Homo sapiens: one gene and its partners. The main gene of each other region encodes a partner of the protein of the gene in region 2 in a complex. Each region holds a gene or a part of one and is shown on either strand. Other genes may lie near its edges. The genes, in order: TIMM23, TIMM50 and TIMM21.

Region 1 (11,835 bases), on a different chromosome or scaffold from region 2:
ACATCTGTATATCTTCATAGAGAAATGTCTACTCAAATCCTTTGCCCATTTTGTAATTATTTTTTATTAATGTTTCAAGAGTTAAAAAAATTAAATATTCTAGATATAAATTCCTTATCAGATACATAATATGCAAATATTTTCTCTCAGTCTGTGGATTGTCTTTTCCCAATTTTTTTCCTTTTGAGACAAAGTCTCTCTCTGTCACCCAGGCTGGAGTTAAGTGGTTTGATTATGCTGAGACTTGACCTGCTGGACTCAAGTGATCCTCCCACCTCAGCCTCCCTAGTAGCTGGGACTACAGGTGCACACCACCACACCCGGCTAATTTTTGTATTTTTTTGGAGAGATGGGATCTTCTTATGTTGGCCAGGCAGGTCTCAAACTCCTGGGCTCAAGTGATCCTCCCGCCTCAGCCTCTTAAAAGTGTTGGGAGTATAGGCACGAGCCACTGCGCCAGGACTTTTTCCATTCTTTATTTATTTTTTTATTTTTTTTTTGAGACCGAGTCTTACTCTGTTGCCCAGGCTGAAGTGCGGGTGGCGCGATCTTGGCTCACCGCAACCTCTGCCTCCCAGGTTCAAGTGATTCTCCTGCCTCAGCCTCCCAAGTAGCTGGGATTACAGGCGCCCAGCACCACGCCTGGCTAATTTTTGTTTTTTAGTAGAGATGGGGTTTCACCATGTTGGCCAGGCTGGTCTCGAACTCCTGACCTCAGGTGATCTACCCACCTCAGCCTCCCAAAGTGCTGGGATTACAGGTATGAGCCACTGCACCTGGCCTCCATTCTTGTTGGTATTGTCTAAACCACAAAATTTTTAAATTCTGATTAAATACAATTTATCAACTTTCTTTTTACCACTTGTGCTTTTGGTGTCACATCCAAGAAATCACAGTCTAATCCAAAGTCACAACTACTTGTGCCCATGATTTCTTCTAAGAGTTTGACTGCTTTAGTTTACATTTAAGTCTTTAATCCATTTGGTGGTAACATTTTGCATATGGTGCAGGGTTAGGGTTCAACTTCATTCTTATGCATATGGATTCCAGTTGTCCTAACGTCTCCCCTGACTTAACTATCTTGGCATCCTTGCTGAAAAGCAAGTGACTGCATATATTGTAAGGTCTTTCTTCTGGACTCTGTATTTCATTAACTATGGATTTATTCTTATGTTACTATCATGATGTGGCTCTGTAGAAAGTTTTGAAATTGGCAAGTTCAAGTCCTCCAATCTATTTTCTCAAGGTCATTGGCCATTCTATGTCCCCTGAATTTCCATATGAATTTTAGGATAAAAGCTTGTCAATTTCTGCAAAAAAGCCAGCTGGGATTTTGACAGGCACTGCACTAAATCTGTTGGTTAATTTGGTGAGCACTGCCATTTTAATATTAAAATTTTCAGGATCATAGCATGTGTCTTTCCACTTAATTTCAATAATGTTTTATAGTTTTCAGAATATGTTTTGCACCTGGTCCATTTATTTCTAAGTATTTGCTTTTTGATGTTATTGGTAATCAACTGTTTTTTGTAATTTCATTTTTGTAGTGTTCATTGCAACTGTCTAGAAATATATTTGATTTATGTATATTGAACTTGTATTCTGCAACTTGCTGAACTCGATCATTAGTTTTAACAGATTTTTGTGATTTCCCTTGTGATTTTCTATAGATAAGATCATGTCATTTGTAAACAGATAGTTTAACTTCTTTCTCAACTTGAATGCCATTTAACGTACTTGACTAATTGCCCTGGCCAGACAATGCTGAATATAAATGAGAGTAAATATACTTATTTTGTTCCTGATCTTAGGGAGAAGGCATTCAGTCTTTCACCATTAAATTATGTTAGCTTTGGATATTCTGTAGATGGCATTTAACAGGCTGAAGTCCCTTTTATGTCTAGTTTTATTTATTTATTTAGAGATAGGGTCTTACTCTGTTGCCCAGGCTGGAGTGTAGTGGGGTGTTCTCAGCTCACTGCAACCTTTGTCTCCAGGGTTCAAGCGATTCTCGTGCCTCAGCCTCTCAAGCAGCTGGGATTACAGGTAGGCACCACCACGCCTGGCTAATTTTTGTATTTTTAGTAGAAACAGCGTTTTGCTATGTTGGCCAGGCTGGTCTCAAACTCCTGGCCTCAAGTGATCTGCCCACCTCAGCTTCCCAGAGTGCTGGGATTACAGGTGTGAATCACTGCGCCCAGCCTAGTTTGTTTTTATAATCATTAAAGGGGGTGTTGGATGTTGTCAAATGATTTTTGTGAATCTATTGAGATAAGCATGTGGTCTTTGTACTATATTCTTTCCTTGATTGCTTTATTATAAATTGATATGGCACAATACATTAATTTTCAGATGTTAAATCAACCTTGCTTTTCTAATATACCCAAGATATATTTCCTAATATATCTTGGATTCAAAAAGATACTCTTTGAAACTTTTGATGCTTAGTCAAAAAAACCCTGATATTGTAAACTGAGCTTTAAAACACACTTTGCCTGTAATCCCAGCACTTTGGGAGCCTGGCCAACATGGTGAAACCCCGTCTCTATTGAAAACACAAGAATTAGCCAGGCGTGGTGGTGGGCGCCTGTAGTCCCAGCTACTTGGGAGGCTGAGGCAGGAGGATGGCCTGAATTTGGGAGGCTGAGGTTGCAGTGAGCAGAGATCGCGCTACTGCACTCCAGCCTGGAGGACAAAAGCAAAACTCTGGCTCAAAAACAAACAAACAAACAAACAAAAAACCCCACACACTTTGTAACTAGGCATCCCAATACTTTTATTGGGGTGCTTTCAAAAATTAATTCTGCTCTGGTTTTAAAAAATAAGCTTTTGAAGGGAGTTAACTGGTTTCAGAGAGATGCAGGCCAAGCTCCTGGTGTTTGTGAGGAAAAAAGGGTGAATGGAGACCAGAGACTTACTGCCTCCAAAAGTGTATGTCATAGTTCAAGTCAGCATAGCACTTGGCGTTTTTTTTAAAATGGTAAAATAATGCACCAAACTAGTAAAATCTTAATCTTACCTGCACGAGGTATCGTGGATCCACATTTAAATAAGGAGACAGAGGGTTCATACCAGTTACTAGAGAGAAAACAAAATGTCACATTGCAACAAAATTCTTTAAGTTAATCCAGTTAGAGTTAATCCAGCTCCTGACTGTTACATGTGTTTGCAATTTTTATAGGCTCACTGAAGGCGGAAAATTTTTTCCCATTTTATCCTCCCTATCTGTCAGTTTGGGGGCTGACTCATCCTGAGACCCTCAATCCCAAACCAGGTCTTCCACTGGTGGCTCAGGCTTTTACACCAATAAGATAATTGCAGTGTCATAGATCTGATTTTTGAACTTACAGGAAGTGTAGTCCAGGCCATTTACAAAGCTAATTTCTTTCACTTTACTCCAAGAATGCTTGGTGACTATGTAAATTACAAAATAAGACTGAAAAAAGACTAATCAATTCCATGGGAAAAACAGTGGTTGGGTTGGGTTTTCTGACTGTGTACATGTTGTATCTAACTATTTCAAGGCAGTTCCTTCACATATTACTATTAACGATTGATTTACTGTGGCAAGGTTGAGAATCCTTGGGTCATTACCACAGGTATGTGGGTCTGTGCAAAAGAAAACACAAACTTTGAGAGGGCCAGACCTGAATTCACTAACATTGAAAACAGTAAAACCTATCATCTTTGGATCCTTCTGTATCTCAGCAGTTATTTACAAACCTATGCATCACCCATGCCTCTATCTTTTCATCAATTAGGAGTCCTGCTTGTTCTATTTTTAATATCTATTTTGAATTGTGTTACTTATCTTCTCTATTGCTACCATCCTAGTCCAACCATCATATCTCACAGCAACAATTTCCTAACTCCTTGCTTTCTCTTACCCCTTCAATTCACTGTCTACATAGCAACTACAGTGATTTGTCTTAAGAAAATCGAAACTCCTTACCATAACTTACAAAATCCTACATTAGCTGTCATTCCCTACCTCTCTGATTTCACAAACTTCAATGGATCCAACTCCCTTGTAACTACGAAGACAGACTGGCCTAAGAGCTGTTCCTTAAACCTGCCAAATTTGTTTTGTTTCAGGACATTTGCACTAGCTATTTTCCTGGATACTTGCCTCCCAAGCATTTGTACTGTATTTGGGTCACAGCTCAAATGTCAACTCCCTTGAGATGTTTTCCCTAACCGGCTCTAAAATGGCATCCTGCTTCCATCACAATCTCAAGACTCTGCTTTATTCCCTTTACAGCACTTATCACTAACGGCAATGTTTTAATTTATGTTTGTTGGTTTACCTCAGTATTATGTAAGCTCTGTGAGCGCAAGAGTCCTCTTTTCAAAAAAAAACAAAAAAAACCCCCACAAAAACCACTATAGTCCTGCCCCCAGAAAAGTAGCTAGCACACTGTAAAAGCTCAGTAAATGGTGTTCATTCCCTGGTCCCCCAATTTACCTTCAAATCTTAATCAAATTAATTTAACAATATTGTCACATTAAGGAAGTGTATATGCCCTTTGTGCTCTGAAACTCAGAGATACTAAGATTAATATGAAACTGTGTTCTAAACAGGTAAAGTAGTAGCTCAGGCCTAGGAATCCCAGCATTTTGGGAGGCCGAGACAGGAGGATGGCCTGAGTTCGAGAGTTTGAGACCAGCTTGGACAACACAGGGAGACCCCATCTCCACAATAAGTCAAAAAAAAAAAAAAATTAGCCAGGCGTGGTGGTACGTACCTAGAGTCCCAGCTACTTAGGAGGCTTAGAGGGGAGGATTGTTTGAGCTCAGGAGTGCGAGGCTTCAGTGAACTATAATCATGCCACCGCACCCCAATATGGGTGACAGAACGAGGTCCTGACTCTAAAAACAAACAAACAAAAAAACGAAACAAAACACCATGTGTTGTAGATTCAGTTTTTTGACAAAGGTGACACCAGGGAAATGAAAGGTCTTTTATATTTTTTTGCACTACAGTCTGAACATATTTCGTTGTTGTTGTTCCTTAGTATAAAATACCTAGAGAAATATTACAAGGATTCTCTAAAAAGAAAGTACTTTCGTAAAGGCTTTATCCACGACCAACTGCCTATCTTTAGGTCCAAGTTGTATTTATCTAGTTGAACAACCACAGTTACAAAGTACCAAAGTTCTGGAAAACATTTTCACAAGACCGAGGAGAGGCAAAGGCAAGATATTTATGCCTCTGTATACCTTGATGTTGCCTATTTCCGTTTCTATAATTCTTACCTGGCTTCTTTCTTCATGTCTATATATCACCTTTAAAGTTCAGCTTACTTCCTAGCTCCTAAAGAAGGTTTCCTAGCCTGTCCCAAGTCATTTATTTCTCACTTACAAACAATATTACTGAATATTCTGCCCTGACGGCTACTTGGAGGCTCAGAATATGTCGCTGTGTACTAAAAAGTTAACTACGGGCTTGCTATTTGGAATACATTTACTCCCAAAGCTCGGCTCTACTCTTAATCAAGGGTCAATCACACGGCCCACCACACACAAAACGTAGGAGGCTTGGATATAAACCTAAGAAAACATGCATCATCTCGCGAGTCCAGGTCAATCACGGACAGCTTCCCCAGGAGATCCGTGGCCCTTTTTTAGGCCTTTCTATCTTGAAAGAGCAGCCATGCAGATACACTAACCCCACCACTGGTACTTAAGCTTGTAAATGCCAGCAAGGAAAAAAAAAACAACAACATAAAACATGGGACGCGCAACTTAGTGTAGACGCAAAAACCAGTCAGAAATAATCGCAAGCTAGGCCCCATACTTACGCGGGACGCCAGCCAAATCCGCGTGCGAGTAACCTGCTCCGCCGGCTCCGAAAAAGCCGGCCAATCCCCCTGTGGTTTTGTTGCCGCTTCCCCCGCCTCCTTCCATGGTATCGCAGCAAACCGAGTGGTTCCCGCCGCTGCCTCAAGCCTGGGTGGTCCGCTGGGCCGTTACTCCTCAATAACAGCGGGTAACCCCGCGTTGCCAGCGCCTACTTCACACGCTGACCTTCCGGGCGCCGGTTCCCGTTAAGCGCCACACTTCCGCTTTGCGGCAATGTGCGCCCCGGAAGCTGGAAGCGCCTGACGGCAGCTTTCCGGTGGTGGGAAAGTGAACGAATCCCGAATCAAAGCGGCGCATTGAGGCAGGTGGGGTGCCAGTGGAAGAGAGAAAGCAGGCGAGTGTTTACGGCCTGACTTGGGAGGCCGGCGGATCAGCAATTGCAGAAGCAGGCAGCGGCAGAGAGGGAATGGTGCAGGCAGGCGCTGAGAAGGACGCGCAGTCCATCTCTCTCAGGTTAGTGAAATGAGGCTCTCCGCCCGGGGCCGGCCCGGGGACAGTGCGCTGCTGGTCCCAGCATGAATGCGGGCCCCGGCTGTGAACCCTGCACCAAGCGACCCCGCTGGGGCGCCGCTACAACTTCGCCGGCTGCTTCGGACGCCCGGAGCTTTCCGAGCAGGCAGAGGCGCGTCCTCGACCCCAAGGACGCTCACGTGCAGTTCAGGGTCCCACCGTCCTCGCCAGCCTGCGTCCCAGGGCAGGCGGGACAGCACAGAGGCAGCGCCACCTCGCTTGGTACGTGGGAAAATAAAAATCTTTGTCCTTCGCCTCGGCCCGAACCTTCTGGTCTCAGGGACTCCAGTCACTCCTTTCTGGTCTTGTGTGCATCATCACTCTGAGGTCCACTTGCTGAGCTACCAAAGCCACTAGTGGGTGAATGGGGCCGCATTTTTCCCAGTGCGATTGATGTGAGAAACTCTGATGAGCAGTCACTCACAGGGCGGAAAATGGCAGGAGACTCCACCACCTGTTTGCTTCTTCAGGTTTGATTGAGAAATTGCCTTAGTCGTCAAGGAGATCTAATTGTGTATGTAAAACAGTAGGGCGCTTCAGCCTCTAGATAGGAAGAAAACAACTTCACTTGTGCAGATTCTGGGTCCCAGGGTGCAGAGCTATTAGTCTAAGCTGGCATTGTACCCGTCCCTGGTATACAGTGTTGAATGAGAGAAACTTGGCCTCTGCCTTCATACCTTAAAATCTATCTGGAGAGATAGACGATAGCAAAAGTTAATATAATAAAAGGTAATGGATGTTCTGATAGATGAAAGACAGATTGTTTTACCTAACTGAATTTATGGAATCGAAAATAGTCCTCCAGAAGATGAGATGCTTATTCTGAGGACTGTAGAATGAGTAGGAGTTAGATGAAGAGGAAGTAAGAAGTGTTTCAGGAGTGCAATGGAGGCCGGGCGCGGTGGTTTTGCCTGTAATCCCTGCGCTTTGGAAGGCCGGGGCGGGTGGATCACCTGAGGTCAGGAGCTCAAGACCAGCCTTACCAATATGGTGAAACCCCGTCTCTGCTAAAAACACAAAAAATTAGCCTAGCGTGGTGGCGGGCAACTGTAATCCCAGCTACTCCGGAGGCTGAGGCAGGTGAGGCAGGAGAATCACTGGCATCCGGGAGGCGGAGGTTGCAGTGAGCCGAGAGGGCACCATTGCACTCCAGCCTGGGCAACAAGAGCGAAACTCCGCCTCAAACAAAACAAAACAAAACAAAACAAAAACAGGAGTGCAATTGATATATAGAGTGAACGCAAGAGAGTGTGAGAGATGAGGCTGCAGGGTGGTACAGAAAAGTCAGATCAAATTGGATATGTAGACATTGCTAAGGATTTTGAACTCTAAGGGCATTGATAAGCTACTCAAGGGTTTTTAGTAGGGGAGTGACTTGATTAGACTTATTTATTTGTTGAAAAGTCTGTGTGGCTGGTGTGTGGAAAATAAAGAATGGATTGAAAAGGAACTCAAGTGGAGCATCAAGACTCAGTTAAGGAGTTAATCTAGGTTGGAAATAATTGTAGCTTAGGCCTGGATGCTGGCAATAGGGAAGGGGATGGATTCATGAAAGAATGGGATACTTGAGAAGAAATATTTCTGTGCTGGAGAAGTAGATTGGGGAGTTCATGGCATAAACATTATAATGGATGCTATGGGCATAGATAACATAAACATGTAGAGAAAGTAAAGGTGACCTAGGGCAGAAGCCTTAGGAACACCAAAGTTTAAGAGTAGACTGAAGAGAAGCGGCTGTAGAGGTGGGAGGAAAGCCTGGCTCGTGTTGTGTCAGACAAAGGAGAGCATTTCAAAAAGGATGCATTCATTAACAGTGTAAGAGGCTGGGCAGAGCTCGGGCAGTTCTCTGGTGAAGAGTGTACACTTAGATGTCTTCGAACTTAGGGACAGTACCAAGTAGACTTGCACTAGGCCTTGAAGGATGAGGAAGATTTGCTGTATAAATCAAGAGGAGAAAGAATTATACACGCAGAGGGAATAAGACATGCAAAAGTTGGTAAGACTGGAGCATAAGATGACAGAGGAGTGTCTGATGAGGCTGGGTGGCAGACAGGAGCTTATGAAGAAACTCAAATTCCATTTTAAGGAATTTCAACCTTATTCTGTGGTTAATGGAGAAACCACTAAAAAGCTTTTAAGCGTGGGAATACCATTTGGTTAATATTTTAGAAAAGTGGCTTTTGGACTTTCCTAACTGCAACCCACAGCATAAATTTTATCCAGTACACAGAGTAAGAAATATATGTAACCTGGCAAATAAGCCATATTTATAACTGAAATAAATGTTTCATGAAATAATACTTAATCTTTCTATGTGTGATGCATTCTTATATTGTCTGTGTTATTTCATTGAAAAATGACTGGTCATTTGTAGTTTGTAGAACACTGGATAGTCAAGGCTGTAGACAGGGAGACTAGTTGCAAGAAACAAATGGCAGTTGTCTAGTAAGCGATGTGTTTAAAGAGTATGAGGAAGGGATGGATTTAAAATTTAGGATGTAGATTTCAGAGAACTTGGTATAGGGGAGAGGGAACTGAAGGTGAACTTCAGGTATATGTTCAGGTGTACTTCAGCTTCTGTGACTGGATAGTTTGTGGTTTCATTAACCTTATTTGCATGTAAAGGAGGAGGAGTTAGTTGCAAATAGGGGTGAGGGCAGTCAGTCCTCACTGGTTGGATCTTAATTAAGATTTCTGCAGAAGAGGTACCAAATGAATACTTGGGGCTGTATTTCGCATGTTTAAATGTTTTCTGTATACCTGGCACAGGACACCAATTAACAGAATGTTCAAAGACTATATTTGTATCAAAAGCCCATTGTTTGAATTTTTGGGATTCCTTTAGGAACTTGGTATTTAAATTTTTATATATAATTATCTTAGGACAAGTAGGCGGGGTAGCGAAATGGATATTTATTCAGTATCTTTAAATTTTATATTCTTTATCTTCCTGGACATATTTCTTGTATTGACTGAAATCGCTAATTTTGCTGGGCATGCACCTGTAGTCCCAGCTACTTGGGAGGCTAAGGCAAGAGGATCACTTGAGCCCGGGAGTTCCCGTCCAGCCTGAGCAACATAGCGAGACCCCACTTCTGAAAAAAGAAAAAAAAAATCTGCAAACCTGCATATTGGCAGAACTCAGCATGTTATTCACATTGTGATGACGCAGGTTTATCCAGATGTGTTGCTATAGACTTTTTGTGAAAGTGGAATGTTCCTTTGACATGCAGGTGAATTTTATTGCATTTTGTGCCTTTTGGCTGTATCTATAGCTATTAATTGAATGACTTGCTGATTAAAATATACTGGGTACTGAATAATGTTGCTGATGAGAGTAAATGTAAATGGTGTGAAGTCAAAGTTGGAGAATTATTGATCTCAGTGGAAAAAAAAAAGACTGGGTGGAAATGTCGAGAGATAACATATTGAGTGCTTTGTGAGGCTGAACACAATATTTTCTCTAATTTTTGCTTTGTAATTGATCCACATAACCCTTAGAAGTAGGTGTTGTTAGCTTCATTTTCTGGGTGAGGAAATAAAGGCTTAACGAAGTGATATTGCAAAGAGCAGTAAGCAGTCCTTTCTCTGAGGCCCTAAGAAGGACTGATCAATGTTTTATTAGCAGAAGATACTGGTTCCTTACCTCTTGCTTTTCCTCCTTCATCCCTTCCCCAGGCTTCAGGAAGCCTGAAACTGGAGAGAGAACACATTCTCAGGGTCAGGGCTACGGGAGAGAGCTCTCTTCTTCTTTGCCATCACTGGAACACTCCTGGTTTTTCATGAAATGATGTGTGCGGTCTTTAGGTTCTTTAGACTTATCACGGGAGTACATGCTTCGTGTGTGTTATAGGAACCTAGTCATTGCATCTTAACATTAATCCTTACATTTATGGAAAAAAGATGTTTTAACTTCTAAACCAACTCAAAAAATGAATGTTTTGGCATATTACTGGTTTGTAATTTGAGGATTTTTTTTTTAGTTTTTGAGACGGAGTCTCACACTGTCGCCCAGGCTGGAGTGCAGTGGCGCGATCTCCGCTCACTGCAAGCTCCACCTCCCGGGTTCACGCCATTCTCCTGCCTCAGCCTCCCGAGTAGCTGGGACTACAGGCGCCCGCCACCACGTCTGGCTAATTTTTTGTATCTTTAGTAGAGACGGGGTTTCACCGTGTTAGCCAATCTCCTGACCTTGTGATCTGCCTGCCTCGGCCTCCCAAAGTGTTGGGATTACAGGCGTAAGCCACTGTGCCCGGCCCAATTTGAGGATTTTCTAAACTATACTTGCTGTATTTGATATAAAGAAAATAAATAGAGAATACAGAACTGTAGAAAAAATTTCAGAATCAAATGGTTTATCCTCTTACTCCCTCTGACTGAAGCTCATTTTTTCTCTGAAGCCTGATCTGCTGCAGAAATGCTAAATAAAATCGTGGAAGTAATGGTGTTTAACAATAAGAAATCACTATGCGTGATTACTTTTTTGTGATAGAAACTATTTTTGAAACATTAATCAAAGATTTTTACTAGCTGGATTATAAGTATTTTGTGGAAGGTAAAGATTATATAGCAATTGAATATTTTTCTGGTATAAAATTCTCCCCATCTGAAATGTATTTCGATTATGCCATTATTTCAATGAAAAATAAACCATTGATTTTCGTATATTTGGCCTGCATCTGTTTTGCTCCATATGGTGTTTGAGGAGAGGTAGGTAAATAAGAAAGATCCTGTGACTTAGGATGCTAAGATTCTTACATTGCAATTTAGTGAGTATCTCAAATCTTAAACATTTGCGAATGTTTAAGATTTTATTTCTGATACTAAAATATGATGTACATTTAATCCCTATTCAGTATGTTAAATTTTGACAGCATACTTATTTCTAATGATTATATAAAATGTGGCTTGTATTTATTTATATTTAATCTCCCTCTCCTGAGCTATCAATTCTACTTTTGCTACTGTCTGCTGGTGTGTTGGGAAGGAAACCTTAGGAAGCCAGAAGTAGTGATATGGTTTTCTATCTAGTTACTTCTTTGGCATCTCAAATTTAGTATAGGCAGAATTGACCTAATCGTATTTCTTCCCTAAACACAATTCTCTTGTATTCCATATTTCTACTTAAGGCTGTCATCACTTTTCAAGTCTCTCAAGCTCAAAGCTTAAAGTCACTTTTAACTTCCCCTATTATTGTGAAGTCTGTAATGACTCTCCTCACTTTTACTACTCTCACAAGGACTAGTTTATGTTCTTGGCAAGTAACTGTTCAATCTAGTGGATCATCAGAATCACTTTTGGAAAAAAAAAAAATAGATTCCAGCTCCCCTCATGCCTTCATCCTACTCACATATAGATTCTGATTCAGAAGGACTGGGGTGTGGCTGGCTTCCTGATGATCCAGATAGTTTGGGAACCACTGACCTGGACTAGTAGCTTCCTCCCTAGTTTCTGGCAATACGC
Region 2 (8,456 bases):
GCCCCTTCAGGCAGCTACCCGGCCCCAAGGGACCAAGGGCGGGGCGGGGGGGGCGGTCACAGGGGAGGGGGAGCGTGCAGGAGCAACAGCGAGATTCCGTCTGTGGTCGTGGGCACGAGCGAGGTCATGCGTGGGTGATCCCGCGACTTTTTGTGTGGCTAGGGTGGGGTGGGGTTAGGGGGCTAAGCCTGTGTGTGAGGTTGTACATGATTTTAAGATTTTGTGTGTGTGGTATGAACCAGAGCTACCGGAGGGTGCACATGACTTTGTCATTGTGAGTCCACGTGGGACTGTGCGGCTCAGCATACGCCTGGAGTTGTGTGTGATTGACACATTTATGAGGTTGTAAACAATTCTGATTCTGCACGCACACCCGAGTGGGACACTAGAAGTGTACACGACTTCGTGATTGTGTGACGCTTTGAGATTGTGTGGCTGTGTGGCTGCTTCTCTGTGCGTGTGTGTTTATGGGAGATCCTGTATAGGCGTATAAACCTGTGACTTTGTGCTCTGTGCGGGTGTGGTAGAGGCTGTGCAAGGTGGTGAATGGCTGAGGGCGCCTGTGTGTGAATGAGACTGGGTTTGAGAGGTCCACGGATGCAGCCGCGTGTGAATACGATGAAGATCCGGAGTTCTTTGTAGACCCCTGTGTGCGCTGGTTTGTGTGAATGAGACTGGGTTTGGGAGATCCACGGGTGTAGCTGTGTGTGGATACGATGAAGATCCAGGGCTCTTTGTGGACCCCTGTGTGCAGGCGTGTGTGTGTTCCCCCTCCGCAAGACAAAGCCACCCTCCCAAACCCCGCATCGCGGACGCACCAGACGCCAGGGCGAGGAGCTCGGCCTCAAGAGGGGGCTCCCAGCTGTATGTAAATGCCGCCATCTGCCGGGCGGCCGAGCCCCTCCCCCTTCGGGCCGCAGCTGGGCTGCCCGTTTGGCCTCCGGAAGGTGTGAGGAGCAAATGGGCAGGAAATTCCGTCTTCACATACAGGGACCCGCTCCCCCACCCCAGAAGAACTGGGGGGGGGGACATCCCGGGCCCTTCAGAAACCCTTTAGTATTCCAGGACCTCAGCAGGAAAAGCCAATTAGGAGCAGATGTCCCAGCCCCTCTGGTCATAATTGCTCCCTGCCAGGCATGGGGCAAAACCCTTGAGCTGGGGTAACTTCTTTTTTTTCCCCCCCAAAGTAAAAAACTTTAGTGCTTAGAGGCTAATAATTATAGGGGAAAATACAGGTTCAATTTATATGTCTTTTTCCAGAGAAGTAAGATATAGTAACCAACGAAGCCTAGCCCAGCAGAGCCAGGCATACAGTAGGCGCTCTGTTTTTTGTTGTTGCTGTTGTTGTTTTTTTCAGAAGAAGAAGTTTTGCTCTTGTTGCCCAGGCTGGAGTGCAGTGGTGCGATCTTGGCTCACTGCAACCTCCACCTCCCGGGTTCAAGCGATTCTGCTGCCTCAGCCTCCAGAGTAGCTGGGATTACAGGCACCCACCAACACACTCGGCTAATTTTTTATATTTTTAGTAGAGACGGGGTTTCACCATGTTGGCCAGGCTGGTCTCGAACTCCTGACCTTCAAGTGGTCCACCCACCTCGGCTTCCCAAATTGCTGGGATTACAAGCATGAGCCACTAATCCCTGCGCAGTTAATTTTTTAATGAATGAAAGAAGACCAGGCTGGGCACAGCGGCTCACGCCTATAATCCCAGTACTTTCCGAGGCTGAGGCAGGGGACTGCTTGAGGCCAGGAATTTGAGACCAGCCTGGGCAACACAGCAAGACACACTTTTCTACAAAAAAAAAGAAAAGGAGGAGGAGGAGGAGAAAAAAACAGCCTAAAGATTCTTCTCTTAATTCTGACAACAGTGGCGTTTGAGCAAGGCAGCGCCATGGGTCAGATTGGGCAGAACATCCCAGGCTCCTTTTCCCTGTATTTGTCTTTTCCACTCCCTTATTTTTTTTTAATTTATTATTATTGTTTGAGATGGAGTTTTATTCTTTGCCCAAGCTGGAGTGCAGCGGCTCCATCTCCACTCACTGCAACCTCCGCCTTCCAGTTTCAAGCGATTCTCCTGCCTCAGCCTCCCGAGTAGCTGGGATTACAGGTGCGCACCACCATGCCTCGCTAATTTTTGTATTTTTAGTAGAGACAGGGTTTCACCATCTTGGCCAGGCTGGTCTTCAACTCCTGACCTCGTGATCCGCCCACCTCGGCCTCCCAAAGTGCTGGGATTACAGGCGTGACCCAACGTGCCCGGCTCCACTCCCTTCTTTAATTCCTTTTTCACCATTCAGACTTCACCTCCTCCAGGCAGCACTACCTAACACTCCCCAGAAGCATCAAGCACCTCCTCTGAGCTCCCACATCCCCCTATGATTCTTTTATTCTGCCCGACCCCTCTGTCTGTGCCTCCCTCAGCCTTGACCATTCTGGCCTATGAGGTCTTTATTTTTTTGAGATGGGGTCTCTGTTGCCCAGGCTGCGGTGCAGTGGCATTATCCTAGCTTACTGCAGCCTCGACTTCCCGGGCTTAAATGATCCTCCCACCTCAGCCTCCCAAGTAGCTAGGATTACAAGCATGAGCCACCACACCTGGCTAATTTATTATTTTTGGTAGAGATGGGGTCTCCCTATGTTGCCCAGGCTGAACTCCTGGGCAAAAGCGATCCTCCCACCTCGGCCTTCCAAAGTGCTGAGATTACAGGCATGAGCCTCCATGCCTGGCCCTGTGGGGTTTATCTAAGCACAAATCAGACCATTTCCTTCACTTGCATTAGACTTTTCTGTAGCTCCCCAGTGCCTTCTAAATATGTAAGCTTCTAAGGCTGACATTTGAGACCCTCCTTCCACATCCCCCCGAGGTCAGACAAGTTATGTGGCCCCAAGGAGTAAAGCCAGACCTTGTAAACCAAAGTCACCTGGAGGCAAATTAGGTCTAATACTGGGTTAGGTGAGGGAATAGGCTTCCCATCACAGAATATATTTTAACAGAATTTGGGCAACCAGCTATGGAAGGAAGCAAATTCCTGCCCTGGATGATCATTGGGGGGAACAGATTCCAGGTCTGAGATATCTCAGAATGTTTGTTTTTGTTTTGTTTTGTTTTGTTTGGGGTTTTTTTGTTTTTGTTTTGTTTTGTTTTTTTGAGACGGAGTCTCGCTCTGTCACCCAGGCTGCAGTGCAGTGGCTCAATCTCGGCTCACTGCAATCTCCGCCTCCCGGGTTCAAGCGATTCTCCTGCCTCAGCCTCCCATTTAGCTAGGATTATGGGCGCCCACCACCACGCCTGGCCTGTTTGTTTTTTTTTTTTTCCTAGAGATAGAGTCTCACTATGTTACCTAGGCTGGTCTTGAACTCCTGGCCTCGAGTGATGCTCCTGTCTCAGCCTCCTAAAGTGCTGGAATTACAGGCGTGAGCCACTGAGCCTGGCTCTAAAATTTTAAAGATTATAAAAATTGCCAGCCTTTGTGAAGGTTTGTGGCAGGCACGATGGCATTTCTTGTGGATTTTCTTGTGGTGTGTGTGCGTGTGTCGTGTCGTGTACTTTAAGGGATTTCTGAGCATCTTTCTGGCTATTCACAACTTTTCTTTATATGTTGACTGTAGTCACCATAGAAGGCCATGCTGGCCAGGCACAGTGGCTCACACCTGTAATCCCAGTACTTTGGGAGGCTGAGGCGGGCAGATCACTTGAGGTCAGGAGTTCGAGACCAGCCTGGCCAACATGATGAAACCCCATCTCTACTAAAAATACAAAACTTAGCCGGGCATAGTGGTGGGCGCCTGTAGTCCCAGCTACTGGGGAGGCTGAGGCAGGAGAATCGCTTGAATCTTGGAGGTGGAGGTTGCAGTAAGCCAAGATCACACCACTGTACTCCAGCCTGGACAACAGAGCAAGACTGTCTCAAAAAAAAAAAAAAAAAATAGGCCATGCTAAGGTCACATTTAAGCAAAGGCCTAAAGGAGTAAGTTGTGTAGTCTCTAGGGAAAAACACTTCTGGCAGAGCGAACAGCAATTGCGGAGGCCTTGCGGTAAGCATGAGGCCCTGAGTGTGCCTCAGGCACACTCAGCTATCCCAGGGCTTCCCTCCTCACTTCATCCCATCTCTGCTCAGATGCGCCTTCCCAAGAGGCCTCCCGACCATCCCATCAGGTCTAAACCAGTCCTCTGAGTCCCCAGATCACTGCTGCTCCTTGCTATACTTTTTCTTTATGCATTTATTACCCTAGGAAGTTATCTGATCATTGTTTGTCTCCTCCATGAGAACACTGAACATCAGCTCATGACAGCAGAGCTTTGGTTTTTTGGTTTTTTTGAGACAGAGTCTCACTCTGTCACCTGGGCTGGAGTGCAGTGTTGCGATCTCGGCTCACTGCAACCTCCGCCTCCTGGGTTCAAGCGATTCTCCTGCCTCAGCCTCCGAGTGACTGGGATTACAGGCGCCCACCACTACGCCCAGCCACTCTTTGGTATTTTTAGTAGAGGCGGGGTTTCACCAAGTTGGCCAGGCTGGTCTTGAACTCCTGGCCTCGTGATTCGCCCACCTTGGCCTCCCAAAGTGCTGGGATGACAGCTGTGAGCCACCGTGCCCGGCCTGAAACCTCATCTCTCTTAAAAAAAAAAAATGCAAAAAATTAGCTTGGCATGTTGGCATGTGCCTGTAGTCTCAGTTACTTGGGAGGCTGAGGTGGGAGGATCACGAGGGCCCAGGAGGTCGAGGCTGCAGTGAGTGGTGACAGCGCCACTGCACTCCAGTGTGAGCAAGAGTGAGACACTGTCTCAAAACAAAACAAAAAGCCAGGCGCGGTGGCTCACGCCTGTAATCCCAGCACTTTGGGAGGCCGAGGCAGGTGGATCATGAGGTCAGAAGTTCAAGACCAGCCTGACCAACGGGGTGAAACCCCATCTCTACTAAAAATACAAAAATTAGGCCGGGCACAGTGGCTCACACCTGTAATCCCCATACTTTGGAAGTCTGAGGCGGGCAGATCGCCTCAGGTCAGGAGTTCGAGACCAGCCTGGCCAACATGGTGAAACTGTCTCTACTAAAAATACAAAAATTAACTGAGTGTGGTGGCTTTCATGCGCGTCCGTGTGAAGAGACCACCAAACAGGCTTTGTGTGAGCAATAAAGCTGTTTATTTCACCTGGGTGCAGGTGGGCTGAGTCCGAAAAGAGTCAGCGAAGGGAGATAGGGGTGGGGCTGTTTTATAGTATTTGGGAAGGTAATGGAAAATTACAGTCAAAGGGCGGGCAGGAGTGGGGGGTCGCAAGGTGCTCAGTGGGGGTGCTTCTGAGCCAGGAGAAGGAAATTTGCAGGGTTAATCACTCAGTTAAGGTGGGGCAGGAACAAATCACAATGGTGGAATGTCATCAGTTAAGGCGGGGCAGGGCCTTTTCACTTCTTTTGTGATTCTTCAGTTACTTCAGGCCATCTGGGTGTATATGTGCAAGGCACAGGGGATGCGATGGCTTGGCTTGGGCTCAGAGGCCTGACAGTGGCACACGCCTGTAATCCCAGCTACTTGGGAGCCTGAGGCAGGAGAATCACTTGAACCCAGGAGGTGCAGGGTGCAGTGAGCCGAGATCGCCCCACTGCACTCCAGCCTGGGCAACAGAGACTCCATCTCAAAAAAACAAAAAAAAAAGCACAGGTCCCCTCCCTCAGTCCTGCAGACTTCCTCAAGCTGGGAAGGACCAAGGATTTTGGGAAATAACTCCACCGGCTTACAGACAGTGCACCCCAGGACAAAGAGTCATGGTGTAAATTTTAATTATCCTTTGTAGAGGCTTCAAAAAAAAAAAAATCTAGAGTGCAGAGGTTCAGTCTGGTCCACACAGTTCTGAATGCCTTTTAATTATCATCACACACACCAGAGAAGGTCATCTTAGAATATTTAATCAGTTAGCACTAGATGAAGGCTGGAGTAGGAGAGACTGGGATAGTGGGGGGCAATGTGGGGATGGAGGCAGGGCGAGGGAGATAAAGTCAAACTGGTTTTTTTTTTGTTTTTTTTTTTTTTTTTTTTTGGAGACAGAGCCTTACTCTGTCGCCCAGGCTGGAGTGCAATGGTGTGATCTCAGCTCACTGCAACCTCTGCCTCCTGGGTTTAATCGATTCTCCTGCCTCAGCCTCCCAAGTAGCTGGGATTACAGGCACCCACCACCATGCCCAGCTAATTTATTTGTATTTTTTTAGTAGAGACAGGGTTTCACCATGTTGGCCAGGCTGGTCTCGAACTCCTGACCTCAGGTGATCCACCCGCCTCGGTCTCCCAAAGTGCTGGGATTATAGGGGTGAGCCACCGTGCCCAGCTAAGATATTTCAATCTGTGAATAACCCATATGGCCTGGTAACAGCAAGCACCTGGGAATATATACATATAACCCACATACGGACTGTCCCGTTCACTCCTCACAACCACTCTGCTAACATACTACCATCACCCCATTTTAGAGATGAGGAAACTGAGGCAGAGGTGCCTTGCCTAAGGTTTACATAGTTCCATTTGAGTGCCTACATGGGAGTGCTTCATTTGGTCCCCAAAGCTAGCCTGAGACAAGAACTTTCTTCTCCCCCCCCCGCAAGAGACAGGCTCTTCCCATGTTGCCCAGGCTGCTCTCCAACTCCTGGCCTCAGGCGATCCTCCCACCTCGGCCTCCTGAAGTGTTGGGATGACAGCCATGAGCCACTGTGCCTGCCCAGTTATTATTTTATAAATGTAGAAACCGAGGCACTGAGAGGTAAAGTAACTTGCACAGGATCACAAGCCAGCCGAGAAGTGGTAGAGCTTGGATTTGAACTTACACAATCTGGGACTCATACTCTTAATACACAGTGGTACTGTCAATACAGGAGACACATGTGGCTATTTAATTAAAAGTAGTTGGGCAGAGTGGCTCACTCCTATAATCTCAGCATTTGGGGAGGCCAAGGCAGGAAGATTGTTTGAGCCCAGAAGTTCAACACTGCAGTGAGCTATAGTTACACCACTGTGCTCCAGCCTGGGCGACACAGCGAGACCCTGACTCCAAAAAAAAATCTTAAGGTTTTTTTTTTTTTTTTTTTTTTTTTGAGACAGGGTCTCGCTCTGTTGCCCAGGCTAGAATTTAGCGGCACGATCACAGATCATCACAGCCACGCACGACCTCCTTGGCTCAAGGGATTCCTCCCACCTCAGCCTCTCACGTAGCTGGGACTACAGGTATGCATAACCTCGCTGGGCTCGTTACTTTGTTTTTTTTTTAGAGGCAGGATTTCACCATGTTGCCCAGGGTGGTCTCGTACTCCTGGATTCAAGCAATCCTCCTGCTTCGGCCTCCCAAAGTGTCAGGATTACAGGCGTGAGCCACTGTGCCCAGTCTCAAACAAAATTAAAAATTCAGTTTCTCAGTCACACTAGCCACATTTCAAGTGCTCAGAAACTTTATGTGGGGCCAGGCATGGTGGCTCATGCCTGCAATCCCAGCACTTTGGGAGGCCGAGGCGGGCGGATCACGAGGTCAGGAGTTCGAGACCAGCCTAACCAACATGGTGAAACCCTGTCTCTACTAAAAAAATACAAAAATTAGCCGGGCGTGGTGGTGTGCGCCTGTAATCTCAGCTACTTGGGAGGTTGAGGCGGGAGCATTGCTTGAACCCGGGAGGCGGAGGATGTGGTGAGCCGACGTCGTGCCATTGCACTCCAGCCTGGGCAATAAGAGCGAAACTCCGTCTCAAAAAAAAAAAACAAAGGTTTATGTGGCCACTGGCTACTGTACTGGACAGTACAGACCTAGAACATGAACCAAACATCACAGAAAGTTCCAGTGGAGAACACTGCTACATATCTGCCTGTTTTAGTTAGAAGCCAACATTTTATTTTTATTTTATTTTATTTTTTGAGATGGAGTTTCGCTGCTGTTGCCCAGGCTGGAGTGCAATGGTGCGATCTCGGCTCACCACAACCTCCGCCTCCCAGGTTCAAGCAATTCTCCTGCCTCAGCCTCCTGAGTAGCTGGGATCACAGGCATGCTCCACCACGCCCAGCTAATTTTGTATTTTTAGTAGAGATGGGGTTTCTCCATGTTGAGGCTGGTCTTGAACTCCTGACCTCAGGTGATCCACCCACCTCAGCCTCCCAAAGTGCTGGGATTACAGGCGTGAGCCACTGCGCCCCGCTAGGAGCCAACATTTTAAAATAGGGAGATTTAATATAAAAATCCCTATTTTAGCTGGGCACAGTAGCTCACACCTGGAATCCTAGCGCTTTGGGAGGCCAAAGCAGGAAGATTGCTTAAGACTAGGAGTTTGAGACCAGCTTGGGCACCAAGACCCCATCTCTACAAAAAAAAAATTTGTTTAAATTAGCTGGGTATGGTAGCACGCACCTGTAGTCCCCAGGAGGGTACTCAGGAGGCTGAGGCAGGAGGGTCACTTGGAGATCACTTGAGCCGGGAGGTCAAGGCTGTTGTA
Region 3 (12,846 bases), on a different chromosome or scaffold from region 2:
TTTTTTTAAAAAACTTACTATTAGTAAACTAGAACTGTCAACATAAAACACAATCTACAACTTTTCTGATCTTTGAGGGTTCCAACTCTAGCTTTTGCAGTCATAGACAAACTACCAAATACTCATCCACAAACTTTTACATTTTAACCTCTCCCATTCAATGCAATATATTTTCACTGGCCATCTTTTTATTTTAGTGGTACAGAAAACAGTAGTGCATCTTAGAATGAATGGTTTTTTAGATTCAATGAAATAGCATATAATATTTTTATGCAGTGAGTCTTTTTCAGAGGTTCCTAAAGTAAATTTTATTAAGATCAGTCCTCAAAACCAGTAGTACTCAGCAGCACCTTGAGGGAATCTGAAACACCAGAAAATCATACAGCTCACAGCCTCCATGTCTAGGCAGCAGCACACCCGGAGAGCCATGAATGGTTACACTATTTCTCTAGGAAAGGTTTGGAAGCTTCTGCTTTAAGCAACATACAACACACAGGTATTGGATATTGGCGCACCTCCTTCCTGATGTGCTATTTAAGAAGTGGCTAAATCCTAGAGAGTACATTATGTATACGCTCAGTTCACCAACATCATTGCTTTGAATGTGTACTTTGTGCACTGACAGTTTAACCACCCTCAGTTTTTCACACCAGGCCAATTCCCCAGATATAGTTGAAACAACATTCATAAAGGAGGGCAACAATTGGGAGCAAAAAAAGAGATGCCTTAAGAACTTGGAAGAAAAAGTAATGAACCAACCCCCCTGAAAGCTGAAGTATGAAATCCACACACAACTGGTCTTAACAGAGGATGGCCCTCAACTCTGAGCACAACCTATTAGATGACACAAGTGGTGAAAAAGGAGCCCTTGCCCTAGGCATCAGCTGGCCAGGTGACAGTGTAGCCTGGAGCCTACCGCAAGACAGCATCATGATATGCAGCACGCACTCAAATCACCCACTGGCACCTGGCTGCCCTGCTTCCCAGGCACAAGTCTCCACATGCTTCCAAGCAGCTACAGAGTAAATTCCTCTTCCCTTTGTGAATTTTTCTCTCTAGAAAAAAGCACAGTAGCTGGTACAGGGTAGGCCCTCCACAAATATTAGTGATCAGCTGCTCCACTGGCATCTCAACAAAGAAGTTGCATAAGGTAAACTTTTCCAGATCCTGTAAGAGTAAAAATGCACCGAGGAAAAAAAAATGCTGGCTCCACATGCCTTTCCATCCCAGCTTCAGTAAAAGGTGCTTAATATACTTTTGGTCTTATATGACTTTCTAGCCAATGGTTTTCAATCTGTGCTCTGCAGGGCAGGAAGACAGGGAGAAAGGACAGGAAGAAATGCTAATTGGGACATTTTTGCAATACCCTCTCCTCCTTTAATCAGATAATTCTACCTGTTATATATTTTTGTACTTCTGTTAGAAATTTTGTTTAAACACAGATTTCCACAGGAGAAAAGCTTAGGCTCCATTAACATGGTCCTAACATAGTAATCATAAGTAAAATATCATTTCCTAATTGCATTCGTCTCCTAAGACTACCTTCACAAACTGGGTGACTCAGAACAACAGAAATGTATTATGTCTCAGTAGCCAGATGTCCAAAACCCAAGTTGTCAACAGGGCCGTGCTCCCTCTGAAGGCTCTAGAGAGGATCATTCCTTTTTCTGGTGGTTGCCAGAAATCCTTGGTGTCCCTTAGTTTGTGTCAGCATAACTCTAATCTCTGCCCCCATCTTCACAGAGCAATCTTCCCTCTAGGCATATCTGTCTCTGTGCCTCTTCTTATAAGGATATCATTCATATTGCACTTAGGACCCTCCCTCATCCAGTATGACCTCATCTTAACTAATTATACCTGCAGAGACCCTATATCTAAAGAAAGTCACATCCTGGTGTTCCAGAAGGACATAAATAACTTTAGAAGGTATAATACACTTTGTTTACTGTCAATAGTCAACACAGTAAACAAATTTGTAATACATTCTAAAATTATTTAAAAGCATGACTTATTTTTAAATGGTTATTATTGTTGTAAAGTCTGTATTGACTTATATTACATATTCAAAGATAAAATATCTACAATTGATAAAGGATTCTAACACTTAAGCTTCAAATAAAGGGAATTTCTATCATTCCTTCATCAAACAATAACAATTCCTATCAGGAGCTCCAAACCTGTAACCCTTAAGCCTATGGGAGTGTGGGGGTTGGCTGTACCTAGAATCGGAGTCCACACATACCCTAAGCATCATATGAATAATTCTATATATACTTTAAACATAAATATTATTGTAGTTCATCAAATATAATTTTATTTAAGATATTAAATAAATACCTTACTGAATCAGTAACAGCTTTTTGTCATTGTTTATTTCCTCAATAAGAAGCCAGAAAAATAAAAACTGTTACCTTAGGCCTTTCCAAGAGAACCAAAGAAAAGTAAATTCATCTGATGGATCAATTTTAATCTAGCAATTGGCAAATACCAAATAAATGATGATGATTCATGCTGGCTATGTTACAAAGAAACAGGCATCCTCATTTACTGCCCGTAAGACAAGATACAGTGGTACAAACGTTATGGAAAGCCAAATCTGATATTGGAATCCAGGATCCTTAAAAAGCACATATGCTCTTTTAAGCCAGGAATTCCACTTCTAGAAATGTGCACAGATAGTTCACTCAAGAATGTCCATCTCAGAGTTGTCTGCACTGGGGGAAAAAAATACTAAAAACGGTATAGAGATTGGTTAAATTGCATGGTCTCCATAGAGTTAACAATGTCTAGTCAATTAAAATATAGATTTTTCAACCCAGGTTAAGTGTTTGAATTAGAAACAGGTCCCTGATGGCCTCCAGGTGTCTATATGGCTTGCTCCCTCACTTTCTTCAGCCATTTACTACAATGTCACCATCTCACTGAGACCTTCCTTGGCTGTTATATTTAAACTGCAATCCAGTCCCCTCTGCCACACACACATGCACTTTGTGTCCTTTCTCTGTTTCTCTCCTTAGCACACATCACCATCCAACACTATACATTTAACCTGCCTGTCTTGCTTACTATCGCTGGAATGACATGGGCAGTTATACTGCATGGGTTTGTTCACTGCTGATCGTTCAGCACCCACAATATGCCTGGCATGCGAGCAGCATTCAATAAATATCGCTGAATCACTAACAGTATAACTGAGAAAGCAGGTTATATCAGTATATACTACTAGGTTGGTGCTAAAGTAATTGCGGCTTTTGCCATTACTTTCAGTAACAAAAACCACAATTACTTTTGCACCAACCTAATACATAAACTTATTTTTCTATTTCTCTAAGAGGAAAAGTAAATATATGCATACAAAGAAAAGAGATCTAGAGACACCAAGGTTTAACAGTTAACAGATCTGATTCATAGGATTACAAAATCTGTTGGTGAAGGTCTTTTTAAATGGGGACGATTTAGGGGGCATAACTCCATGTATGTTCTAATTTTTCTTAGCATATTGAATCTGTAATAAGTTGGGGGGTGGGGGTGTTGTTTTAATTTCAAACCTAAGAGTCACATGCAAAAGAAGGCCAGGGAATCACAGTTTGACAGCACAATCCTTGAGACTGGAGCAGTGGTTCTCAAAGGCATTCCTAGCAACAGAACTCTTGCAAAGAAACTGAAACCAGGTCCCCCGAAATCTGGGGGTACAGTCTGCAGCAAACTCAAAATTTCTTAGGAGTCTCCCAATTGATCTTAAAAATTAAAGCAAATACTGCATTCTACTAAATAATCTGTCTTTGTCCTATCATAAAAATGTATTATATTATTTACCAGTTAAATTATTTAACATTTTCCCCAAAGCCTTTGTGTTGATTTTGCAGACAAAGAAGATGCTCTATGTGTTCCCCACCCACTACAACTACTCGTTTGAGAAGCACAGCGCCAGGGTGCTTAGATGTTTCAAGAATACATACTGGCTTAATCCACCACCAAGTTCTTACTGAAAACCTTAACTTGTGTGTCCCGAATTTATGAAAGATTACTGTGAAAACACCAGTGAAATAAAGTCACCTGTTTTGTAAACATATATGCATATAAAATATATGTAAATAAAATGATCTTAGTAAGTTCCTCAAAGTCATGCTGTAACTCTCCCCACTCAAAGATAGTTTTAAATAACGATTAAGCAAATAAATCCTGTTTGGTACTAGTTATTTTTTTTAAGTACCAAATGCTTTTCCCTAATCTGAAACCCTAATTCAGTAACGAATGGATATGCCTCTATCTTTGGCTAAAACATTTAACAGGGCTTAGTTAGTTCAATTCTACAAATACTTCTTAATCATATACTCTGCACAAGGTAATGTGTAAGTGCTTTAAGACATTTCATCCTTTATTTAATTGGAATATGAAGGCTATTTTATTACAAACATGTTTTCACACTTTTAAAACGTCAAAGCTTATTTCTTGCTGTTTTGTTTTTTCACAATTAAAATGGATCTCATAGAGTCCCTCATTTCAGTTTACAAGGCTAAGGCTCTAACAAGGCAACTAAAGAAACTTAAGGTCCCAAGCTAGAAGCAAAGACAGTCTCTGAGACGCCCATCTCCTTAATGTCCTGTCAGAGCTCTCTGTACCATGTCTTACATGAGACCATACATCTTATCAGTGTACCTTTTAACACTATTGGAAACACATTTCTATTTATCCATAAAATAAACCAACTGCACTTTTTTTTTTTTTTTTTTTTTGCGACAGAGTCTGGCTCTGTCGCCCAGGCTGGAGTGCAGTGGCGCTATCTCGGCTCACTGCAAGCTCCGCCTCCTGGGTTCACGCCATTCTCCTGCCTCAGCCTCCTGAGTACCTGAGCCTACAGGCGCCCGCCACCATGCCGGGCTAATTTTTTTGTATTTTTAGTAGAGACGGGGTTTCACAGTGTTAGCCAGGATGGTCTCGATCTCCTCACCTCCAGATCTGCCCGCCTCCGCCTCCCAAAGTGCTGGGATCACAGGCGTGAGCCACTGCACCCGGCCCCAATTGCACATTTTTAAGGTCCACATAATTAACAAATCAGCAAGTTCTATTTATGTTTTTATGCGAATCTATACGTCTACAAGGTTAAGTGTAGACATACACTGATACATTTAGCAAGATAAATTTAGTTTGAAAACACTTTTTTTCAAGTGACAGGTTTTTGTCTGATAGCTTTCAATAAGTCCAATATTTTAAAAACCTAATGACTGTGCTTCATTTTAAATATCTGGCAAATCAAATAAATTACAGCAGGTACAAATTAAGCCAACTTAATACGCTTTCTGCTACACTTCTTACAGTTTGTGATATTTATACATATTCACATTTTGTGTTAAAAGGGAACACTGATTCCTTAACAACATCTAATTTTCCACAGCGATATATTAAAATAACCACCTGCTTTGACCATAGTCAATCATTCTATTTTTAGCAGCGGACTTTTCTTTACCAAAAATAATGCATACATTTCCAAATCAGCTTGAAATGCAGGTTCCCATGCCAGGCATAATGACAGGCCCTCTAATTATATCAATCCAGGAAGTTCACTCAACTTACAAAGGATAAAAGATTCATCATATAAAAATCATTCTGCTTCCCCCTAATAGAGCACTATGTAAAGACTAATTTTAGTAATAGCAGCAAATTGATTAAAAGTTCAAGTTTCCTATTTAAATTCCTGCTTTTTCTCCTACATAAAAGAATTTTTGCAGGCATTGTCACCATTCTATTTGTGACAAGGCTTGTGGTATGTCTAGCATTATAGGTATTCAATTAAGAACTATTATCACAGCACTAAGCAACAGGGCTGGGCTTCTGAAAACAGGTAAGTGGAAGTAATGGAGACCTAGAGAGGACACAGGACATAGTTCTGGAGATTCAGGGGGAAAAAACAAGTAGTTCAACTAGTATGTAATAGACTCCCTTTGTGTGCTTAAACATAGACCATTGGTTTATTAGAAGGCAAAATATGCATGACTTTCCCTATTTATAAATCAAGGAGTCTTACAAGCAGAAAGATAATCCTCAAGAATGTAAACCATTCTTGGCATTATCCCTCCATCTGTAAACTAACTGCAGTGATGGGTACACAGCTAGGGAACAGCTCACGATATAATGAGAGGGATTTCATAAGGTACCATTATGCATGCTGATACTTCTGATGCACTGGCTCATTTTACTTCTTCACGCTGAAGATGCTTCTGGAAAGCAGATGAGCAAGACCTGGCAATGTAGATGGCAACTTAGCCTTGACGTTGGAGGTGCAGAAAGTGCTGCCCCCCACCCGCCAGACCAACCTGCCTGCCCGAGGTATCTGCTTGGGGGATGAGGGTGTCAACTGATAAGGTTTTGATGAACAGACTCTACTTCCCTAAGTTGTAAGGTCATGAAAAACACGAAGGGAGATTCTTGGTTACAGAAGAGCGAAAATACGAAGGCAGGGGCGGAGCACACGTGAATTTAGGGCACGCATCCCGGAGAAACGACCTCTTGGACCTGCACCTGTCCTGGCAGGTGCGCGCATCCCCGGCCACAGGCGCCGCAAGAAAAAATATTTCCCCGAGAGGCTACTCTATTTGTGTCATAACTTAGGGTACCCCACGTTGCAGGGTAGAAAGGATTTCCTCCGGTCGTTCTTCCATACCCTTCTCACGTTGAAGACGGCCACGGGCCTTGCGCCAAGCTGGACGAATAAAATACACGGTGAAGAGAGCGGGGCCGCGCAGTGACGGGCTTCCCGCCAGGGGACCCCACCCGCAGGCCCTACAGTCACCTGCACCCAAAGGCCCTGGCGCGCCCCCGGGCCGCGCCACCGCCCCTGCTGGGCCCGCGCAGCGTCTGGAGGCCGAGCCAGTGCTGCTGCAAGATCCGACCGCGTCCAGTCGCCATAGAGACAAGGAGTTCACCACAGGACCGCGCCAGGGCTGAAACGAAGAGTGCACGCACCGCCCCCACGCCCGCACGTCGCCACACCCCTTATGCGCATGCGCGCGTGAGCAAAAGTAACGGTATGCCCACCCTTGCGCAGACGGCACCGCGCCAGACACCCGCTCACAGAGCGGGCTTCTAGAAACTTCCGGGCCTCGGCTTCCTTACCCACCCCTAACATTCTGCCGCCTAGGGCGCCAAGCCAAGTTCGCGGCTTAACCATTTAGGAAACCGGTGCCTGCTTTGCAGCGGCCTCGTTCATCCCCACTTGCTGACTCTTTATTGTCCAGTTTTTCTGAAAACACAGTAAAACGCAAAAACTAAATCATTTGCCCACGCGGAATTGGCAAGACCACAGTCCAAGGGGGTATTTCCCACTGTGCACAGTCCTCTCTATAAGGATCAGGAAAACACGTAGATTGTAACTGCTAATTTGGCTTTTGCAAGTCCCGCCTGAACCACGTAGGGTGGGTGGTACCAATTCCCCCACCAACACCCCACTTTCCGCCGCTCCAGGGACGCGCAGCGTCTGCGCCGACGCTGGGCGCGGAGGCGTCTGGGGGCGCGGGAAGGACCTGCGCCGTGCTCTGGCCGCCTTGAATTGTGGGAGATGTAGTCTCTTTTGCGCGCCTCTTTGCCGTATCCCAGTTAAGAGCGAGGTTTTCAAACTACTATTCCCAGGAAGACGGGGGTTTCCCAGGTGACTTTGCGAAGGCATGGCGGGGACACTGTGAATGTCAGCCCAGAAGGTGATCAGAGCCTGTTAATTAAAATGGAAAGAAGACAGAAGGGAAGGTAGACATCAGGTTCTCCCTGGAGACTTTTCGTTTTCATTTACGCTGCGGAAACTGACGTTTTTGCCTAACACCCCATGTAATGTAAACGTATAGGCTTGAGTACGTGTCCGGCCGCATGTGTAGTGAACCCTAAAGCTTTCCTAATTGTAGTTAGCATCGTCCCTAAGCGGAACGATTTTCCGTGAACATGATTTGTACTTTTCTACGAGCCGTACAGTATACGGAGAAGCTGCACAGGTCCTCGGCAAAGCGATTGCTTTTGCCATACATCGTGCTTAACAAAGCGTGCTTGAAGACTGAGCCCAGTTTGAGATGTGGGCTTCAATATCAAAAGAAAACGCTGCGACCTAGATGTATTCTTGGAGTCACCCAGAAAACCATCTGGACGCAGGGACCGAGCCCCCGAAAAGCAAAGGAGGATGGCAGCAAACAAGTGTCTGTGCACAGGAGTCAGAGAGGGGGAACCGCCGTCCCAACATCACAAAAAGGTAAAAAGGAGTACTTTAATGATTGGGCTTTCAACAGACATGACAAGAGCTGCCAATGCCCTTTTATACCAAGTTCACTGCTAAAGGTGAAAAAGCAATTCACATGAATTTTTAAAAACCGTTTAAACATAATTTAGAACTAGAACATATAGATCTACAGTTTTCTTCACAGATTGGAACTCAGATGTGAAAGTTGATCTTGAATTTGATATAACTTTTTTTCATTATGTTTGGGAAATTTTTCTCAAGTTATATTGGCTCTGTTACATATAATAAAGAGTAATTGGATAGGATAAAAAGAGAGAGAGAGAGATTATTGACTCATAACTGGTAGGGAAAACTTTCACATGTTACCTGCAGTAATAGAAAAACATAAAATAGGGAGGATGGAATGTAAGTTGTCAGGGAAAGTCAGAGATGTATTCACAGATATTTTAAGATTTTTTTTTAATGTCTTCATTTCGCATGTGATTTGTAGGAAAAAAAAAGACAAAGCAATTTAGACCGCCATGATTATACCACACGAAGATGACTATTTTTAACATTTTGCACTTTCATACACATACCTTTTAATAATTTTTAACCCAAAAAATTGGATCATACCAATTGTTTTAGAGTCTGCTGACTATGCCAAAAACCTAGCTTTTCATTCATACTAGTTCAGCACGAAGGAACAACCTGTATGCAGAGGTGAAAGGCATAGAAGTGGCAAACAGCATGTGCATCAGGTCATCTGGCTCAGGCAACAGTGCTCATGCTTGCACTGCACACCAGGCCTGCTTAGGGACCCCTTCCCTCATCTGCACCCCATTCAGACGTGACAGTCCTTGTGGCTGAGTGAATTGATGGGAGCAACATTCCCAAATATGGAATATGCTGCGTCCAGAATTCAAACAGGCCTATGAAGCATTGTGGTAGGAGGTATAGGGTACAATTGTCTTTTACTTGGGAGGGCATGTCTTGGCACGCCCCAGTGTAGCCCCACGAGGTCGGCTCATGTGTTGATGAGCCTCTGCATCTTTGTTGGACCCACCTCTCACACTTGCAGCTTCTCTGACCAAGCCTTCTAACACACTTGCCACTTGTTACTTATGGGCTCTAACATGATGGCATAAATATAGTAGACAAATGTGATATTCTCCTGAATGTCCAGAACAGCATTATTCAAATAAAACTTTCTGCATAGAAATGTCCTATATCTGTGCTGTCCATTTGGGTAGTTCCTGGCCACTTGTAGCTATTTTGAGCACTTGAAATGTTGCTAAAACTTGTGACTGAAGAACTGAATTGATTTAATTTTAATTAATTTAAAATTGAACTGAAATAGCCATGAGTGGCAAGTGGCTACTGTATTAGACAGCCCAGGTCCAGAAGGTTTCAGTCCCTTAAGACTGTTATGATAGAGGGTGAGAGAATTAGCAAATCCTGGGCAGGATCATAAACATACACTGTTATTATCTGTTTCATGTTACTACAGACTACTGCTGCTGCTTCTGAATAGAAGGCGTTCTTCAAAGCAATGGCCAATACCATGAGATTGTGTTAATGCATTCCCCTGTAAAGTTACCATTTGTGGTATTACATGTGTACCCCGGCTGCCACTTGGTTGAGTTTGCAGTTAACCACTGTCATTCTCCAGCACCTATTTGTGTTTTGTAAAGGAAGACTGGTAAATTACAAGGGACCGTGATGGGGATCGCCATGCCTGTATCTAAGGTCTCTAAGAATACTCTGCCATTCCCCATAGATGTGATATCATTTTTAATTTCCTATCTTGGTCACCGAAAGGGCAGCTTCAGGGGCTTCCATTTGACTTTTCCCACTGCGATGGCTCTTAACCCACTTCCAAAGGAACTAAAGTGGGAGTTATTGTTGCCAGTTACTCAGTACATCCCCTTGATTTATACATTTGGAAATCACAGAAATTATTGCCAGGTAAGTCCCTGGACCCACCTGTGAGCTTCTTACATCCGGTGATGGAGGGCGGTCAGGGGGTCATCATGACTCTTTGGGTCCTTGGGTATCACTGTCAGCACAGACTATGTCCAAGTTGATAACTGTAGGTCCTTTTGGTGAAGGACGGGGGGAGTCAGTTACATACGCTTTCCTTCAGTAAATGCGTTCCAGGTCTGAAAACTGGTTCAGGTCCAGAAACTGGGGCAATGTTCAGGACTTTGCATTAGAGCAGCTGCCTTCAGCCTCAGGAATCATCTGTAGTTAATTTCTCATGACTGTGTAATTCAGAAGTAGCCTTGTCCGCTGCCCTTGTGTCTTCCCTTTGGAAACACTGTGTTCTAGTCATCAACTCTGTTGCTTTCTGTAGGTCAGACACTCCCGACTGCCACTCCAGCCTTGCCATTAGTTATGATGGTTGCACCCACCTTGGCTTCTGTTTAACACCCCAGCCTGGTCTCTGCTTCATAATTCTTTCATCTCCATTTCTGTCAGGGCATCCTGCTCTATAAAGATGTAACTGTGGCTTCCTTGTGGCTTTGGTACACAGTGTCCTCCTGTCCCTCCTAAGAACATAGTCAGCTGGTGGGTTTTCGGGCTTTATATCTTATATCTATGGTAGCATCCCCATTCTTGGAGGCTGTTGAGCCTTTCGTCCAGTTTGCCATGGCTGTTCTGTCACTTTTACTTAATGTGGACCATCACTGTCTCGAAGTTTCCAGGAGCAGACCTAGCCAGCTGCATATCAGTTCCCAGGGTGCTTGCCTGGTTGCTAAATTCATCACAGGAGCGTGCCCCATGCTGATCAACTCTCAGCTGGTTTTGTGTTCTGTGCCCTTGACACACCACCCTTAAGAAGCAGTGGTGTCTATGTTCCCCCCCCCCCCGGGGGGACCTCCAGCTCCTTCCGAGTATTGTTCTTCTCACCCTTCTCATGCCCAGTCGTGTTGTAACTTGGCCAGGAGGGGAGGTGGAGAGCCCTCCTGAGAGCAGCACGTATCTTGCTAGGCAGAAACCCCCACCCACCCCTCGCCCAGTTTCCAAGGTGGAGGAAGTGCCAACCTTTACCAGACACTGAGCTGCTGCTTCAGGGCTAGAGGGGTCAGGAGAATTGGGATTCAAGATTTTTTACAACATTGACCTCAAGGGCCCCCTACCCAGCTTTAGGTTGCCTTTCCTCCCAAATCAGGACCCTGACCTTGGTGTGGGAGGTCTCATGGGCTTGAAATGCCAAACTCCCTGAATCCCTTCCGCCCCAGACCTCACCCACGCATTTTCTATCCTCTGGGTGCAATTTGAGTCTTGTTCTGCCGGGGAGGAGGCTCCTGCCCTTGGCACTCACCTTCACTGGTGATTAGTTACACACTTCATCTCACCATCCCTCTCCATGGCCCCAGCCACAGCCGTCTGATATAAGTCCTTAAAATTGCTGATTCCTCCTAAACTCCCAGAATAACACATCAGCCAGTACATTCCCTTCCGCCAGCATTCCATCCCAGGTCCCCATTGGTGAGAGCTGCATCAGCTGCACTACAGCTCTATGACAGGTGCTGTCAGTACCCCCCTACCACCAGGGACAGGGTCCTCATTGCCAGCCAGTGGCCGGCAAGCCAGCTCCAAAATCCAAATTGAGAGCTGCTTACCACTCCTGGTAGCACCCGTTGTAGGTTGGCTTCCCAGGGAAGTGGGATTTGCGTAAGGTTTATCAGGGAGTGCTCTCAGAATACGTCTTGAGGGATGAGGGAAGCAGGACTGGGCAGAGGGAGAGGCCGAAGTGCATTTGCAGTTGGGGCCTCAGCTGCTGCTCTGGGGACTTCTGGAGCTGAGCTGGCCAGTCACTGTCCTACCTAATATGGGGGCTGAGTCTTATGCTTCTGCATCAACCAGGCATTGAATATGGGCTGGTCCAGGGAAGTGCCGTGACCTAAGTGAGGAAGCTCTCTTATGATGGAATGCCCAGAGAGGAGCTCAGCTGACAACTGTCCGCTACCAGTGCTCCCTGCAGCTGGGAGCCCCATACCACAGCACCCACTATAGGAGGGGTAGAGAATTGTGGAAGCAAATAAATGGCATGAGGGTTTTTTGCATACAAGTATTAGGTCTGATAGGGTTCAGAAAGTTAGACAGTGAGCAGCTTCCATTGGAGACAGCTATAAAGTAACAAACAGAAATTTTTCAAGTGTGTAGAATATGGAGAATATTTAGCACAGGGCTTTATATATAACAGATATACAGGAGCTGTTGTTTATCAAATAAATGGAAAAGACCTGTCAGATACCCTAAGCAAGGTAGGAATGAATTGTTGGAAGGGACAGTCAGAAGTCCAGGGTGTTGGGGCCAATGACCCGGTTTGGGTAACAAGGACAAATAAGGATACTTACTAGAACTAGTTAGTTGTTATTGTATTCTCAACCTGGGAGTTGATACATAACTGGCAGGTAATATTTATTGAAATGTATTTTGTGACACTGAGAGTGGAATGAGATGTCGTCATTGTAGGCCCCAACTCCTGAACCTTGGAAGGGAAATTGGATTTGTGACAATTGTTTGAGTCAGTCCCATGAATTACACAGATTTTGGCAGATGAGGTCTTTTTATTATTTGAATAATGTCTTCTAAGTTGGGAACCTTGCTGAAAACTTGAAGGATTGTGATACGCTAAA

Evidence for each region.
Region 1: TIMM50 (region 2) and TIMM23 share a complex: the UniProt entries of both Homo sapiens proteins name them as parts of the TIM23 complex.
Region 3: TIMM50 (region 2) and TIMM21 share a complex: the UniProt entries of both Homo sapiens proteins name them as parts of the TIM23 complex.

Annotation. Positions count from the first base shown.
Region 1 is NC_000010.11:45,966,697-45,978,531, reverse strand, and holds the start of TIMM23 (mitochondrial import inner membrane translocase subunit Tim23), read right to left. Parts: upstream 6,044-11,835; 5' UTR 5,908-6,043; coding exon 5,802-5,907; intron 3,079-5,801; coding exon 3,020-3,078; intron 1-3,019. UniProt on the Homo sapiens protein: Essential component of the TIM23 complex, a complex that mediates the translocation of transit peptide-containing proteins across the mitochondrial inner membrane.
Region 2 is NC_000019.10:39,490,447-39,498,902, reverse strand, and holds the end of TIMM50 (mitochondrial import inner membrane translocase subunit TIM50), read right to left. Parts: 3' UTR 5,124-8,456; downstream 1-5,123. UniProt on the Homo sapiens protein: Essential component of the TIM23 complex, a complex that mediates the translocation of transit peptide-containing proteins across the mitochondrial inner membrane. Has some phosphatase activity in vitro; however such activity may not be relevant in vivo.
Region 3 is NC_000018.10:74,140,880-74,153,725, forward strand, and holds the start of TIMM21 (mitochondrial import inner membrane translocase subunit Tim21 precursor), read left to right. Parts: upstream 1-7,643; 5' UTR 7,644-7,929; coding exon 7,930-8,230; intron 8,231-12,846. Other genes in the region: FBXO15 (F-box only protein 15), read right to left, coding at 6,791-6,906. UniProt on the Homo sapiens protein: Participates in the translocation of transit peptide-containing proteins across the mitochondrial inner membrane.